Regions from separate parts of the Homo sapiens genome. Here region 1 is linked to region 2. Evidence: fine-mapped expression QTL. Tissue or cell type: whole blood. Region 2 holds a variant in brackets; the other region holds the start of a gene. All regions are shown on one strand. Distances are between the middles of the regions.

Region 1 (7,825 bases), 110 kb before region 2:
ATCCAACTGGCCATCCACCCATCCATCCATCCACCCACCCACCCATTTATGTAACCATCCATCCATCCGTCCGTCCGTCTGTCCATCCATCCATCCGTCCATGCATCCATCCACCCACCCACCCACCCATTTATGCAACCATCTGTCCACACATTTATCCATCTGTTCATCCACACACCCACCCATTCACCCACCTGTCTGTTCAGTTATCCATCCGTCCATACACATACCCTCCATCCACTCATTTATCCAACCATCTATCCACACACCCATCCACCCATTTATCCACCCATTCATCCACCCATTCACCTATCCACCCACTCATCCATTTATCTACCCATCCATCCACTCATTCATCTATCCACCCATCCATTTATCCAACATCCATCCACACACCCATCCATCTATCCGTCCATCCACCCGCCCACCCACCCACCCATCCACACACCTATCCATTTATCCAACCATCCATCCACCTATCCACATACCCATCCACCCAGTTATCCAACCACCCATCCACTTATCCACATATCCATCCATCCAGCCACCCATCCACACACCCATCCACCTACTTATCCACCCATCCGTCTCCATCCATTGATCCACCATCCATTTGTCCATCCATTTACCCATTCACACATCTATTCATCCATCCATCCATCCATCCATCCATCCATCCATCCATCCATCCATCCATCTACACACCCAACCATCCACTCACCCACACACCCACCCATCCACACACCCATTCATCCATCTATCCATCCATCCATCCATCCATCCATCCATCCATCCATCCATTCATCCATCCATTCAACCACCCACTCACCCATCTATCCACCCATCCACCCATCTACCCATTCATTCATCCACCCACCCACCCATTTATCCATCCATCCACCTATCCACCCACCCACCAATCCATCCATCCATCTACCTGCCCATCTAGCCATTCATCCATCTACCCACCCCTCCACTCATCCATCCATTTGCCCATCCATCCACCCATTATTTACCCCTCCACCCATCCATCCATCTGCCCACCCACCCATCCATCCATCTACCCACCCACCCATCCATCCATTTGCCCTTCCATTCAACCATCCATCCACCCACCTTCCACCCACCCACCCACTCATCCATTTACCCATCTATCCACCTGTCTACTCACCCACCCATCCATCCATCCATCCACCCATCCACTCATCCATTCATCCACCCACTCACCCACCCATCCACACACACACCCATCTATCCATTTATCCACACACACACCCATCTATCCATTTATCCACACACACACCCATCTATCCATTCACCCATTTACCGTCCGTCTGTCCATCCATCCATCCATCCCTCCATCCACCCAACCACCCATCCACCCATCCACACACACTCATCCACCCACCACTCTTCACTGCTGTGTGCCAGGTCCTCTACTAAGCACCCCGTCTGGCCCAGGCAGAGAGCTGCTATAGCTGCACGAGGAACCGGGACTCAGTGTTTGGGGCCAGGTGGGAAGTCATCAGAAGGTGAGAGGGTGGAGTTCTGGAAAGAGTCCACCAATGGCCCTGAGGAAGAGAGGAGGGGGTTCCCATGGGGTCACAGGCTCTTCTCCACACGGCTCAGAGCAGGTTAGAAATGCCTCTTGGGAACCAACCGCAGCCTGCAGCCTGACAGGAGGGTGGGCAGAAGAATGCAGCAATAGGAGGCCCTGGGTGTGGAGCCCCAGCTTGAATCCCAGGAGCTGGATGACTGGCTCTCAGGGCTGTAGCCACTTCTTCTGCTTAAAAGGAGGTGACAGCTACTTTTGTGAGGCCATCATGAGAACCTAGGGGAGTCCCTGCCGAGTGCCGGGCACACAGCACATACTCAGTAGACTGGACCATTCTGCGGGCGACTGGGGAAACGTGGACCCAGGAGCTGGATCCTCCAGGACTGCTCTCCCTCCAGCACCAGGCGTGGCTCCCCGGGACTTGCGGCACTTCTCAAAAGCAAATCACCAACAAAGACGCTCTGCCAAAGGTAATAAAATGGGGCTGGTCTCTAAAGGCAGTTCCAAAAAAAATTTCCGCAAAGTCTCTTGAGATAAGAGAGGAGACAGTGGTTCTAACGAAGTGCACCGTCTCCTTCGACGGCACGGAGGAACGTGAACAACCTGGTGACCTAAGCAGGAGGGGCGGCCAGCGTGGCAGCGGGTGGCGCGTCAAAACTGAGGCCACCCAGTCTGACCATGAGGGAGAAAAGCACCAGACAAACCCACTTGAGGCGTGTCCTGCAAAACACCTGACCTGCCTTCCCCAGGAGCGGGCAGGGTGTCAGAAATAGGAATGTCTGGGAAACTGCGACAGCCCAGAGAGATCCGAGGAGGCGTGACGCCTAAATGCCACGTGGGATCTCGGGTGGGGCCCTGAGCAGGAAAGGGCATTGGGGGAAACTGAGGAAACTGGAATCAAGTGTGGACTTCACAGTCGTGCATCAATAGTTGTTCATTGGTTGTGACAAATGTATCACACTGGCCTGGATGCCAGTAACAGGGGACCCGGGATGTGGCGCACAGGGGAGTTCTGAACTGTCTTTGCACATTTTGTGGGAATCTAAAACTCTTCTAAAACGTTTAGGCTGGGCACGTTGCTGACTCCTGTAATCCCAGCGCTTTGGGAGGTCGAGGTGGGAGGATGGCTTGAGCCCAGGAGTTCGAGACCAGCCTGGGCAACATGGCAAGACCCCATCTCTATTTTTTTAAAAAATTAAAAATTTATATTAAAAATACTGTAGTTCCTTCCCGGGCAACATGGTGAGACCCCCATCTCTACTAAAAATACAAAAATTAGCCTGGTGTGGTGGCAGGCGGCTGTAGTCTCAGCTACTCCAGACTCTGAGGTGGGAGGATCACCTGAGCCCGGGAGGTCAAGGCTGCAGTGAGCTAAGATCGCGCCACTGCAATCCAGCCTGGGCGACAGAGAATGAGACCCTGTCTCAAAACACACACACACACACACACACACACACACACACAAAATGGTTACACCAGTGCCCTAGAAAACGCCCTCAGCACCTCGCCCCCAGGGCTGTCCTGGGCACACCCCTCCCTGCGCCCTGTCCTGAGTCACCTGCCCAGGTGGGCCCACCTGCCCACAGCGCCCACTCTGCGGGCAACCCCCACCCCATGGCTCCCAGCTGCGAAGCCCACTCCCATCCCTGGCTACCCCCAACCCCTCCCCATCTCCATCGTCTTCCACTCTGGGTTGGCTCCCGCCAGGGTTGGGAATCCAGGGTGGAGGTGGCAGAGCCCTGGGACCCCTGTCCTCCGGAGACTCCAAGCCTGGGCGGCACCCCCGGCCCGGAGCAGGAGGTACTGGGGAAGGGGCTTGGCAGGGGGCCGGGGGAGGGGCGGCTCCCCCACCCGGCCCCGCCCCGCCCCTCCCTTCCTCCAGCCCCGGGCCCAGCTCCGGCTTCTGCTCCACTTCGGGGTGGGCGGGATCCGGGCAGTAGCGGTGCAGCCTCGTCGTCCGGAGCGCGGTGAGTCGGGGTCTCCTGCGGGCTCAGCCTCCCCTCGGAACAGCCCCCACTTCCTCCAACCCCGGTGAGTCGGGGTCTCCTGCGGGCTCAGCCTCCCCTCGGAACAGCCCCCACTTCCTCCAACCCCATTCGCCAAGCCCCGGGGCTGTTTGGTTGCCTCTGGGGCTGTGTAGAGGTGGCGTGGCGGGAGTGTGTAGATGCAGCCAGGCTGTGTAGACACCACCGGGGTTGTGGAGAGGCAGCCGGGGCTGTGTGGACGCCACTGGGGTGTGTAGACATGGCCAGGTTGTGTAGATGCGGCCAGGGTTGTGTGGACTCAGGTGCCGCGTGTAGATGTGGCCGGGGTTGTGTGGACGCAGGTGCGGCGTGTAGATGCGGCAGGGGTTGTGTGGACGCAGGTGTGGTGTGTAGATGCGGCGGGGGTTATGTGGACGCAGGTGTGGCGTGTGGATGCGGCCGGGGTTGTGTGGACTCAGGTGTGGTGTGTAGATGCACGTAGGGTTGTGTGGACGCAGCCGGGATTGTGTGGATGTATCTAGCGTGTGTAGATGTGGCTGAGATTTCTAGACGAGGCCAGGCTGGGTAGATGCCGCCAGGGTGTGTGGACGTAGCCGGGATTGTGTGGATGCAGCTGAGATGTGTAGATACAGCTGGGGTGTGTAGATTCGGCCTAGTTCCTGGAGGGGCCTGGGACCGCCGAAGCCCTCCCCATCCCTGTTCCCACCCAGAGTCCTCCCTTCTTTTCTACCCGTGAACTTCACCTAAAGCAAGAACCAAGCATCAGCCTGGAGCCCTCTGGGGTCAGGGGTGGCGGGAAAGGGGCTGACAGCTACTGGGATGGGGTGCAGGGCTGGGGTGGGAGGTGAGTCTGGGGTGTGGTGCGGGGCTGGGGTGGGAGGCTGGGGTGGGAGGTGGGGCTGGGGTGGGAGGCTGGGGTGGGAGGTGGGGCTGGGGTAGGGTGCAGGGTTGGGATGGGGTGGGGTGCTGGGATGGGTTGGTGGGGTGCAGGGCTGGGATGGGTTGGTGGGGTGGGGTGCGGGGCTGGGATGGGGTGGGAGGTGAGTCTGGGGTGGGAGGGGGGGCTGGGGTGGGAGGCGGGGCTGGAGTGGGTGCCAGGCATCTGACTGGAGCCTCTCCTCCCGCCCCAGTTCTCACCCTCGGAGCCGCTTCTGAGTAAACACACACTGGGATGTAACAATTGGAGGTGGGTGAAGGGCCTGAGATGGGGTGGGTTGTTGGTATTTGCCTGAGGGAGGGTCCTCCTGGATTCAATTAGCCCCGGCAGGAAACCCAGGCTGGGGACCGTGGCGTTATCCCCGCATGACCGGGAATGACCCACATTCTGGGAATTAGGGCGGGGTCCCCAGGACAGGCGTCCGTGCTCGAGGGTCCTCTGTGGCCCAGGGACCTTCGACTTCCTTCCGTCATTTTATAGGGGGTCAAACCAGGCCTCGGACCCAGGCATGGGCTCCAGAGGTTGCCAGAGGTTTTGGGGACTTGCCAAAGGGTTCAGGCACTGCCCCGCAGGACTGCATGGCCGGAAACACCTTGTGGGCCGCGTGGTGGCCACCGCCTTGCAGATCAGGGATGCCCCGCAGGACACCTGTGGTCCTGGCTTCCTGACGCCTTCCTGGGGGCCTGGCTGGGTGGGGCTGTGTGAGATTCTGGGTGAGTTGTCTGTGTGGCTGTGTGTGATTGTGTGTGATCATGTGATTGTGTGTGATGTGTGGTTGTGTGTGGCAATATATATAATTGTGTCTGTAGCTGCATATGGCCATGTGATTTGTGTGTGATTGTGTATTATATGTGTGTGTGGGGTCATGAGTGATCGTTTATGTTGTGTAATTGTGTGATTGTGTATGGTTGTGTGTGGTCATGTGTCATGTCATGCGTGATTGTGTATGGTTGTGTAATTGTGTGGTCGGGTGGGATCGTATATGGTTGTGTGTCGATGGCTGTATAACTGTGTGTATAGTTGTGTGGTCATGTGTGGTTGCGTATAGTTATGTCATGATGTTTGTGTGATTGTATAGGATTGTGTGTGGTTGTGCGAGATTGTGTGACTGTGCAGCCATGTGTGTCATTGTGCCTGTGATTGTGGTGGAGGTGTAATTGTGTGTATGGGTGTGTGACTGCATGTGTGAGACCGTGTATGGTTGTGTGTTGTATGGGAGGTTTCTGCAGCTGTGTGGTTATAGTGTACGGTTGTGTGTGTGATTGCATGATGAGAATTGCATGATTTTGTGGATGGCTTTGTGTGGTTGTGTATGGTTGTATAATTGTGTTTGTGTGTGATTGCATATGATTGTGGCAATATGTGTAATCGTGTCTGTATGACTGTGTATGGTGGAGTTGTGATTGTATCAGTGTATGACTATATGTGTGAAGTTGTGTTTAGCTGTATGGTCATTGTATGTGAGATTTGTGGAGTTGTAACGTGGTTGTGTGTGTACTTGCATGATGAGATTGTGTATAATTTGTGGATGGTGGAGTGAGGTTGTGTGTGGTTGTATGTGGTTGTGTGAGGTGTGTTTTGTGAGGGTGTGTGTGGTTGTGGTGTGTGGTTGTGTGAGGTTGTAATGTGTGGTTGTGTTTGGTTGTGTGAGGTTGTGTGTGGTAATGTGTTGTGTGTGGTTGTGTGTTGTGTGTGTGTTGTGTGAGGTTGTGGTTGTGTGTGCAAATCCCCTCTTCCTAGTCTTCTCATCTGGGGCATGGGGATCAGGGTCCCAGCGCTCAGGCTGGCCTGACCGTGGGGTAATTGGGCCCTGCAGAGCCTCACGCCGCCTGCTTGTCCTGCCACGCGGAATGGGAGTCCGTGTGTGCCCCGCTGCCCACAGCGTGTGAACGTGAGTTGGGGACCATGTGGCCCACTGCGCGCTGGGTCCCGTCCCTAAAGAGCATTCTTGGACTGTCTAAAATTCCCTTTGCAGAATTTGGAATGTTTAGGGTGTAAAATACGGAGCTTGGAGAGTCCTTAGGCAAAAGGTGTTGGTGGCCGGTTGCCCAGGCTGGGGACTCTGTCCGCGGGGCGAGAGCTTGCAGGAACGCTGGAGCATCGGAGTTCAAACCCTGTTGTCACTGTGGTTGGTTAAGGGCTTTGCGGAGACGTGGAGGCATGGTAGATGGATCGCAGGTGAGGGCGGAATGAAGGCAAAGGCGTCCCTTCTCTGATGGCAGACACATGGGTGGAGATTTGAGGTAGGAGCAGTTGTGGGGGGGTGGGGGGACAGGCGAGAGTGTGGGAGGGAGTGAGGTCGCGTGATTCCCCGTGCATCTGTGCGTGCAACTGTGGGTGATGGAGCTGGTGCTTGGGGAGGCAGGACTGGACCCTGGGTGCCGACACTGGGGCAGGGTTTAGAGCTCCCGGCCCTGCGCCCCTCGGTCCCCCAGGCTCACCTGGCTTAGCTGGGGAGCAGGGTTCTCGGGGAGCATAACAGGGAAGCTGCCCAGCAATGTGGAGGAGTCACTAGAATTCCAAGAACTCTGTGTGTGAGTGTGTGTGTGTGTGCGTGCGCGCGTGTGTGTGTGAGAGAGAGAGAGAGAGTGAGAGTGGGAGGGAGGGAGGGAGGGAGAGGCAGAGAGAGCCTTAATCTCCTCCTCTGTAAATGGGCATGCTGATATTAGCTGGACCTGTCTCCTGTATACCCTGGGATTATTGGGAGGGCTGGATCAACTCTCATAAGCCTATGAGCCCTACACCAACAGGACGCTGTTGGTATAAGCACATCTCAGCCTCCCGGTAGTCCTGTAGACCCAGCACCTGTAGTCCCAGCTACTCAGGAGGCTGAGATGGGAGGATCGCTTGAGCCCGGGAGTTGGAGGCTGCAGTGAACTGTGATCACACCACTGCACTCCAGCCTGGGTGACGGAGTGAGACCCTGTCTCAAATAAATAAGTGAATGAATGAATGAATGAATGAATGAAAGACGCATAAATAGAAGAAATTTAGAAGCCCAAGAATGAAGCTGAGGCGAACCTTGGGGTTTTATTGAAGTTGATGGTTGACGCAGCCCTGCAGGCTGTTCTAAGCCATTGATGTTTCTGTGTGTTGCTCTGAAATGGATGCAGAGGATAACATATTCTGGGTGATCCACTCATAACTGCATAAGGCTTCCTTTGTTGTTGTTGTTTTGCAGAGATGGGATCTCACTATGTTGATCAGGCTGGTCTTGAATTCCTGGGCTCAAGGAATCCTCCCACCTTGGCCTCCCAAAGTGCTGAGATTACAGGCGGGAGCCACGGCACCCAGCCCTTTGTTGTTTTGTTTACACTTTACCTTTATGAAAAAAAAAATTGGGGGGGA
Region 2 (7,825 bases):
TCTTGAACTTCCGACTTCAGGTGATCCGCCTGCCTTGGCCTCCCAAAGTGCTGGGATTACAGGCGTGAGCCACCACACTCGGCCAAGAGATTTATTATAAGGTATTGATGCACGGGGGCTGACAAGTCACAACATCTGAAGTCTGCAAGCTGGAGACCCAAGAGAGCCGATGTTCCTTTTTATTTTTATTTTTTTTGAGATGGAGCTTCGCTCTGTTGCCCCAGCTGGAGAGCAGTGGCATGATCTCGGCTCACTGCAACCTCTGCCTCCTGGGCTCAAATGATCCTCCCCCCTTAGCCTCCCGAGTAGCTGGGATTACAGGCATGCGCCATCACGCCCGGCTAATTTTTGTATTTTTAGTAGAGACAGGGTTTCACCATGTTGGAAAGGCTGGTCTCAAACTCCTGACCTCAAGTCTCCTGCCTCCCAAAATGCTGGGATTACAGGCGTGAGCCACCATGCCCGGCTGAGAGCTGATCTTTCTGTTTGAGTCTGAAGACAGGAAAAAGCTGATGTTCCAGTCTGAAGGCCTTCAGGTGGGAGGAATTCTCTGCTCCCCAGGGGAGTGGCAGCCTCTGTATTCCATCCGGGCCTTCAGTGAATTCCGCAAGGCCCACCCGTGCTAGGGAGGGTAGTGGGTTTGAGTGACTCAGTGAGTCTACTGATGCAAAGGGTCAAAGGCTCATCTCATCTAATAACCCCCTCACCGGCATGCACAGAGTAATGTTTGACCAAATATGCAGGCACCCACAGCCCAGCCATGATGGCATATAAAATTAACCACCGGGCGGGGCGCGGTGGCTCACGCCTGTAATCCCAGCACTTTGGGAGGCTGAGGCTGGTGGATCACTTGAGGTCAGGAGTTCAAGACCAGCCTGGCCAACATGGCAAAACCCCGTCTCTACTAAAAAATACATAAATTAGCCAGGCGTGGTGGTAGGTGCCTGTAGTCCCAGCTACTGGGGAGGTTGAGGCATAAGAATCACTTGAACCCATGAGGTGGAGGTTGCAGTGAGCCAAGATTGCACCACTGCACTCCATCCCGGGTGACAGACTGAGACTGAGATTCTGTCACCAAAAAAAAAAAAAAAAAAAAAAAAATTAAGCATCATACAGCCGGGTGCAGTAGCTGCTCATCCTGTGATCCCAGCCCTTTGGGAGGCCAAGGAGGAAGGATCGCTTGAGGCCAGGAGTTCAAGACCAGCCTGGGTAACAGAGCAGGGCCCCATATCTACAAAAAATAAAATTAGCTGAAAGCGCCTTTGCAAAAGTTCTATCAGTGAGAAAAAAAAATTTTTTTTTTTTGAGACGGAGTCTCGCTCTGTCGCCCAGGCTGGAGTGCAGTGGCACAATCTCGGCTCACTGCAACCTCCGCCTCCCGGGTTCAAGCGATTCTGCTGCCTCAGCCTCCCAAATAGCTGGGACTACAGGCACGCGCCACCATGCCCAGCTAAGTTTTGTATTTTTAGTAGAGATGGGGTTTCACCATGTTGGCCAGGATGGTCTCGATCTCATGACCTCGTGATCCGCCCGCCTTGGCCTCCCAAAGTGCTGGAATTACAGGCGTGAGCCACCACGTCCAGCCGAGAAAATTATAACAGTAGGCTAAACTAACTAACCCCCATCTTGCCTTAATTATTCCTGGGCTATTGGGCCCAGCTAACTTGGGAAGACATTTAGGCTACAGTTTAAGTGATAGTAGACCTTGCACAAAACCCAACAGCTTTTGTCAAGCTAACCTGAGGCCTTCAGGTTGAGGGAGGAGGGGAGCCTGACATCTGTTAAGGTGCAAACGTTATTCTGGAGGTTATAAGATATGCAGCTTCCAGGCCAGGTGCGGCGGCTCACGCCTGTAATCCCAGCACTTTGGGAGGCCAAGGCGGGTGGATCACTTGAGGCCAGGAGTTCAAGACCAGCCTGGCCAACATGGTGCAACCCCATCTGTACTAAAAATACAAAAATTAACCAGGCTTGGTAGCCCATGCCTGTAGTCCCAAATACTTGGGAGGCTGAGGCAGGAGAATCGCTTGAACCTGGGAGGCAGAGGTTGCAGTGAGCCGAGATCTCACCACTGCACTCCAGCCTGGGCGACAAAGCGAAACTCAGCATGCAAAAAAACAAAAAAAAAACAAAAAAAAAACAAAAAAAAAGAGATGTGGTTCCCCCAATTACTCCTGCAAATAACACCATTATTGTAGTTTGGCCTTTTGAGATGTCTTTCCACGTGTTTTGCATGTCTGACACCCGTGGCTCCACCTGGACTGACAACCCTGCTCCTGAGGTTCCACACAGAAGCGATCTGGCCGGCAGGAGGACCCCTGCAACCTGCTGTGAGTCCATCTCTGCCCCCAACCAACCAGCAGCAAGCACCTGTTTACCTGGCCCACTCCCACTCCTTCCCACAAAACTGCCCTTGAAAAACCCCTAACCTAGGCTGGGCGTGGAGGCTCACGCCTGGAATCTCAGCACTTTGGGAGGCTGAGGTGAACGGATCACCTGAGGTTAGGAGTTCGAGACCAGCTTGGCCAACATGGTGAAACTCCATCTCCACCAAAAAAAAAAAAAAAAAAATTAGCTGGATGTGGTGGCGTGCACCTGTAATCCCAGCTATTCAGAAGGCTGAGGCGGGAGAACCTCCTGAACCCAGGAGGCAGAGGTTGCGAATTGCTTGAACCCAGGAGGCAGAGGTTGCAGTGAGCTGAGGTGGCGCCACTGCACCCCAGCCTTGGTGACAGAGCGAGACTCGTCGCAATAAAGAAAAACCTCTAACCTATGAGGTTTGAACAAGTTGATTTATGAATTCCATCTCCCACGTGGCGTGGCCAGCCTCATGTCTATTAAACTCTTTCTCTACTACAATGCTGTGGTCTCTTTCTCTTTCGTTGTTTCCTTTCTTTTCTTTTTTTTTTTTTTGAGACAGTCTCACCCTGTTGCCCAGGCTGGAGTGCAGTGGCTCAATCTCAGCTCACTGCAATCTCCGCCTCCCGGGTTCAAGCGATTCTCCTGCCTCAGCCTCCCGAATAGCTGGGATTACAGGCGCCCGCCACCACTATGCTCGGCTAATTTTGTATTTTTAGTAGAGACGGGGTTTCTCCATGTTGGCCAGGCTGGTCTCGAACTCCCGACCTCAGGTGATCTGCCCACCTCGGCCTCCCAAAGTGCTGGGATTACAGGTGTGAACCACCGCGCCCAGCCTCTATTTTTTTTTTTTTTTTAAGTAAAATACTTTGTTAGACTGGGGGTCTCCCTATGTTGCCCAGGCTGGTCTCAAACTCCTGGACTCAAGGAATCCTCCCACTTTGGCCTCCCAAAGTGCTGGGATTACAGGCGTGAGCCCCTGCACCCAGTCACGTGGTCTTTCTTTATGCAGTGGGCAGGAAGAACCCCTGCATAGCGGGGTGTGGTGGCCCATGCCTGCAATCCCAGCTATTTGGGAGGCTGAGATGGGAAGATTCCTTAAGTCAGGAGTTCAAGGCTGCAGTGAGCTGCGATGTCACTGCATTCAAGCCTGGGCAATAGAGCGAAGCCCATCTCTAAGAAAAAAAAAAAAAAAAAAATTAACCACCCTGGGGGATCACTGGAGCCAGGCCCGAAGCTGCCCACCATGCTAGCATTGTCTGCAATGCCTGCTGCCGGGGGTTCCAGCTGTTCCGATGTCTGTGAGCAAGTGTGTAAGTTGTAAAATACTCAGTGCAAGGCGAATGATTCCTGTCCATTGTGTAGCAAGAAATTTTGCCTCGACCAGAGAGAGATCTGGCTTTTGTTTCAGCCACTGGGAGGTGACTCTTAGGCCCCAGGAATGTCCTGCCTGATGGATATACCGTTCTGTTTTTTTTTTTTTTTTGAGACAGAGTCAGAGTCTCACTCTGTCTCCCAGGCTGGAGTGCAGTGGTGCGATCTCAGCTCACTGCAAGCTCCGTCTCCCGGGTTCAAGCGATTCTCGTGCCTCAGCCTCTCGGAGTAGCTGGGATTACAGGCGCCTTCCGCCACACCCAGCTAATTTTTGCATTTTTAGGAGAGAGGGGGTTTCACCATGTGGGCCAGGCTGGTCTCGAACTCCTGACCTCAAGTGATCCATTCGCCTTGGCCTCCCAAAGTGTTGGGATTACAGGTGTGAGTCACCGCGTCCGGCATTC[G/A]AGTGGCTTTCGAGGTCACTACAGTAGGGGAGGTGTACGGAGCACTTTCTATGCCAAGCCCATTCTAGGTCCTTGTTTTGGGTAAACATTTCCACAACCTGACTTTTCCCATGAAAAGAGGGAGTTTCAGGGAGGCTAAGCCACCAACCCAAGGACACACAGCTGATGACGGCTGCAGGTGGGATTTGAACCAGGCAAACGTGACCTCAGACAGAGCCTCTCCTTCTCCCTCTCTCTGCGAGGCATAGTCCCAGACCTGCCAGCCTCTTGCTGTGCACAGTTTCCCTGCCCCTCCCCTGCCACTGTCCTCAGAATTTCCCAAATGTGCCTCAGCCTTCGCCGTAGCCTCCGCTGCCACCTGGCGTGGTGATCCCACCTCCTCCCACCCCAGGCCTGTCTTACAAATGTCTGCAAGTTCAAATGATGACTCAGCTCCATCCCGAAACCTCTCCTTGGGGACAGGAGTCATGTCTTGCTCGTTTTGTTCATCTTTGCAGAAAAACATGATGTCAGAGCCCAGCCGCTGCCAATCACTTCCTGGCTACATCCGGAGTGACACGCAGACCCCTCCCCGCAGCCCCCAAAGCCCGTCTCTGTGAGCTCATCTTCCCGGCTCTCCCTCTTGCTTACTCTGTTCCACCCCCAGGGCCTCCTTGGGATTCCTCAAATGCAACAGGTGAGGTCCTGCGTCAGGGCCTTTTCAAACACTGTGCCTGCTGCCTGGGACCTCTGCCCCCAGAGCCCCTTGAACCTGACTTTTTACCGTTTTTTTTTTTTGAGACAGAGTCCTGCTCTGTTGTCCAGGTGGGGTGCAGTGGCATGATCTCGGCTCACTGCAATGTCTACCTCCCAGGCTCAAGTGAGTCTCCTGACTCGGCCTCCTGAGTAGCTGGGATTACAGGCATCTGCCACCACGCCTGGCCAACTTTTTGTATTTTTAGTAGAGACGGGGTTTCGCCATGTTGTCCGGGCTAGTCTCGAACTCCTGACCTCAAGTGATCTGCCCTCCTTGGCCTTCCAAAGTGCTGGGATCACAGGCATGAGCCACTGCACCCAGCCCGCCCCCACTTTTTTTTTTCTTTTTGAGGCAGGGCCTTGTTTTGTCGCCCAGGCTGGAGTGCAGTGGTGCGATCATAGCTCACTGCAGCCTCAAACTCCTGGGCTCAAGTGATCCTCCTGCTTTAGCCTCCCGAGTAGTTGGGACTACAGGTGTGCCCATCAGACCTGGCTAATTTTTAAAAAATTATTTGTGGCTGCGTGCGGTAGCTCACACCTGTAATCCCAGCACTTTGGGAACTCGAGGCGGGTGGATCATGAGGTCAGGAGTACGAAACCAACCTGGCCAAGATGTGAAACCCCATCTCTACTAAAAATTAGCCGGGCGCAGTGTAATCCCAGCTACTTGGGAGGCTGAGGCAGAAGAATCACTTGAACTCGGGAGGCAGAGGTTGCAGTGAGCTGAGATTGTGCCACTGCACTCCAGCCTGGGAGACAGAGAGAGACTTCGTCTCAAAAAAAAAAAAAAAAAAAAAGGCCAGGCGTGGTGGGTAACACCTGTAATCCCAGCATTTTGGGAGGCCGAGGTGGGCGGATCACGAGGTCAGGAGATCGAGACCATCCTGGCTAACACGGTGAAACCCCATCTCTACTAAAAATACAAACAATTAGCCGGGCGAGGTGGCGGGCGCCTGTAGTCCCAGCTACTCTGGAGGCTGAGGCAGGAGAATGGCGTGAACCTGGGAGGCGGAGCTTGCAGTAGCCGAGATCACACCACTGCACTCCTGGGTGACAGAGCCTGGGTGACAGAGCGAGACTCCGTCTCAAAAAAAAAATTATTTGTAGAGATGGGAGTCTTGCCAGGTTGCCCAGGCTGGTCTCGAACTCCTGAGCTCAAGCGATCCTCCCCACTTGGCCCCCAAGGGGCTGAGATTACAGGCATGAGTCTACCCTTAGAGACAGAGGCTGCACGAAGTCATGATCACACCACTGCACTCCAGCCTGGGCAATACAGGGAGACCTTGTCTCAAAAAAGAAAAAGAGAAAGGAACTAATCTCATTAGAAGACTCCACTCTCATGAGCTCATCTGACCCTAATCACTTCAAAGCCCCCCCGCAACACCGTGCCCAGCCTGCAGTACGTTTTTTTATTTTTTATTTTTATTTACTTATTTTTTTGAGATGGAGTCTTGCTCTGTCACCCAGGCTGGAGTGCAGTAGCGCGATCTCGGTTCACTGCAAGCTCCACCTCCTGGGTTCACACCATTCTCCTGCCTCAGCCTCCTGAGTAGCTGGCACTACAGGCGCCCGCCACCACGCCCGGCTAATTTTTTGTATTTTTAGTAGAGACAGGGTTTCACTGTGTTAGCTGGGATGGTCTCGATCTCCTGACCTCGTGATCTGCCCACCTCAGCCTCCCAAAGTGCTGGGATTACAGGCGTGAGCCACCACACCCGGCCACATTTTTTTTTTAACTCTGAATGAATGCAAAAACCTCTATGCTGGATAAAATTTTAAAAATTTATTTTGTTTAAAGCCAAATACGGTGACTCACGCCTGTAATTCCAACACTTTGGGAGGCCGAGGCAGGCAGATCATTTGAGGTCAGGAGTTCGAGATCAGCCTGGCCAACATGGCAAAACCCTGTCTCTACTAAAAATACAAAAAATTAGCTAGGTGTGGTGGAGGGCGCCTGTAGTCCTAGCTACTTGAGAAGCTGAGGCAGGAGAGTCACTTGAACCCAGGAGGTGGAGGTTGCAGTGAGCTGAGATTGCGCCACTGCACTCCAGTCTGGGTGACAGAGCGAGATTCTGTCTAAAAAAAAAAAAAAAAAAAAAGATTATGACAGGATTACTCATACTGATTATTCCTCTCACCTCAGGCTCCAAGATGGCCTCGGCGACACTGTTATTGATCTCATTTTTTATTTTATTTTATTTTTAGACACAGGGTCTCCCTCTGTTGCCCAGGCTGGAGTGCAGCGACACAATCATAGCTCACTGCAGCCTCAAACTCCCAGGCTCAAGTGATCCTCCCACCTCAGCCTCTCACGTAGCTGGGACTACAGGTGCGCACCACCACGGTCGGCTAATTTTTAAAATTTTTGTAGAGATGGGGTCTCCCTATGTTGCCCAGGCTGGTCTCAAACTCCTGGGCTCAAGCAATCCTCCTGCCTCGGCCTCCAAAAGTGCTGGGATTACAGAGGTGAGTTCTGGCGCCCAGCCCAAAGATAATAGCACACATTTCCTGAGTGCTTACCTGATTCTGGGAATTTCCTCCTTCAATGCCTGTGATGAAGCCTTTGTGTGACTGTTCCCATCTTACAGAGAAAGAAACTGAGGCTGGAGCTCATTTTCTTTTTTTTTTTTTTTTTGAGAAAGAGTCTCACTCTTGTTGTCCAGGCTGGAGTGCAGTGGCACGATCTCGGCTCATTGCAACCTCCACCTCCCGAGTTCAAGCGATTCTCCTGCCTCAGCCTCCTGAGTAGCTGGGACTACAGGCATGCGCCACCATGCCTGGCTAATTTTTATATTTTTAGTAGAGATGGAGTTTCACCATGCTGGCCAGGCTGGTCTTGAACTCCTGACCTCGGGTGATCCACCCGCCTCGGCCTCCCAACATGCTGGGATTACAGGCATGAGCCACCACGCCTGGCCCGGCTGGAGCTCATTTTCTGAGCTCAAAGGCACAGA

Evidence for each region. PIP is the estimated chance that this variant, and not a neighbour inherited with it, causes the effect.
Region 1: TMPRSS9 starts here. The variant in region 2 is fine-mapped to the expression of TMPRSS9 in whole blood (INTERVAL, PIP above 0.99).

The regions. Positions count from the first base shown.
Region 1 is chr19:2,356,775-2,364,599 of GRCh38, forward strand. It overlaps TMPRSS9 (transmembrane serine protease 9), which reads left to right and starts at 3,491. Exons shown (of 19, transcript NM_001395513.1): 1 at 3,491-3,586. RefSeq lists a silencer at 1,810-2,021.
Region 2 is chr19:2,465,032-2,472,856 of GRCh38, forward strand. No RefSeq gene overlaps it. Among named protein-coding and RNA genes, the nearest start is that of LINC01775, 6.8 kb to the left of the region's middle. RefSeq lists an enhancer at 4,520-4,619. The variant G/A (reference allele first, on the strand shown) is at 4,137.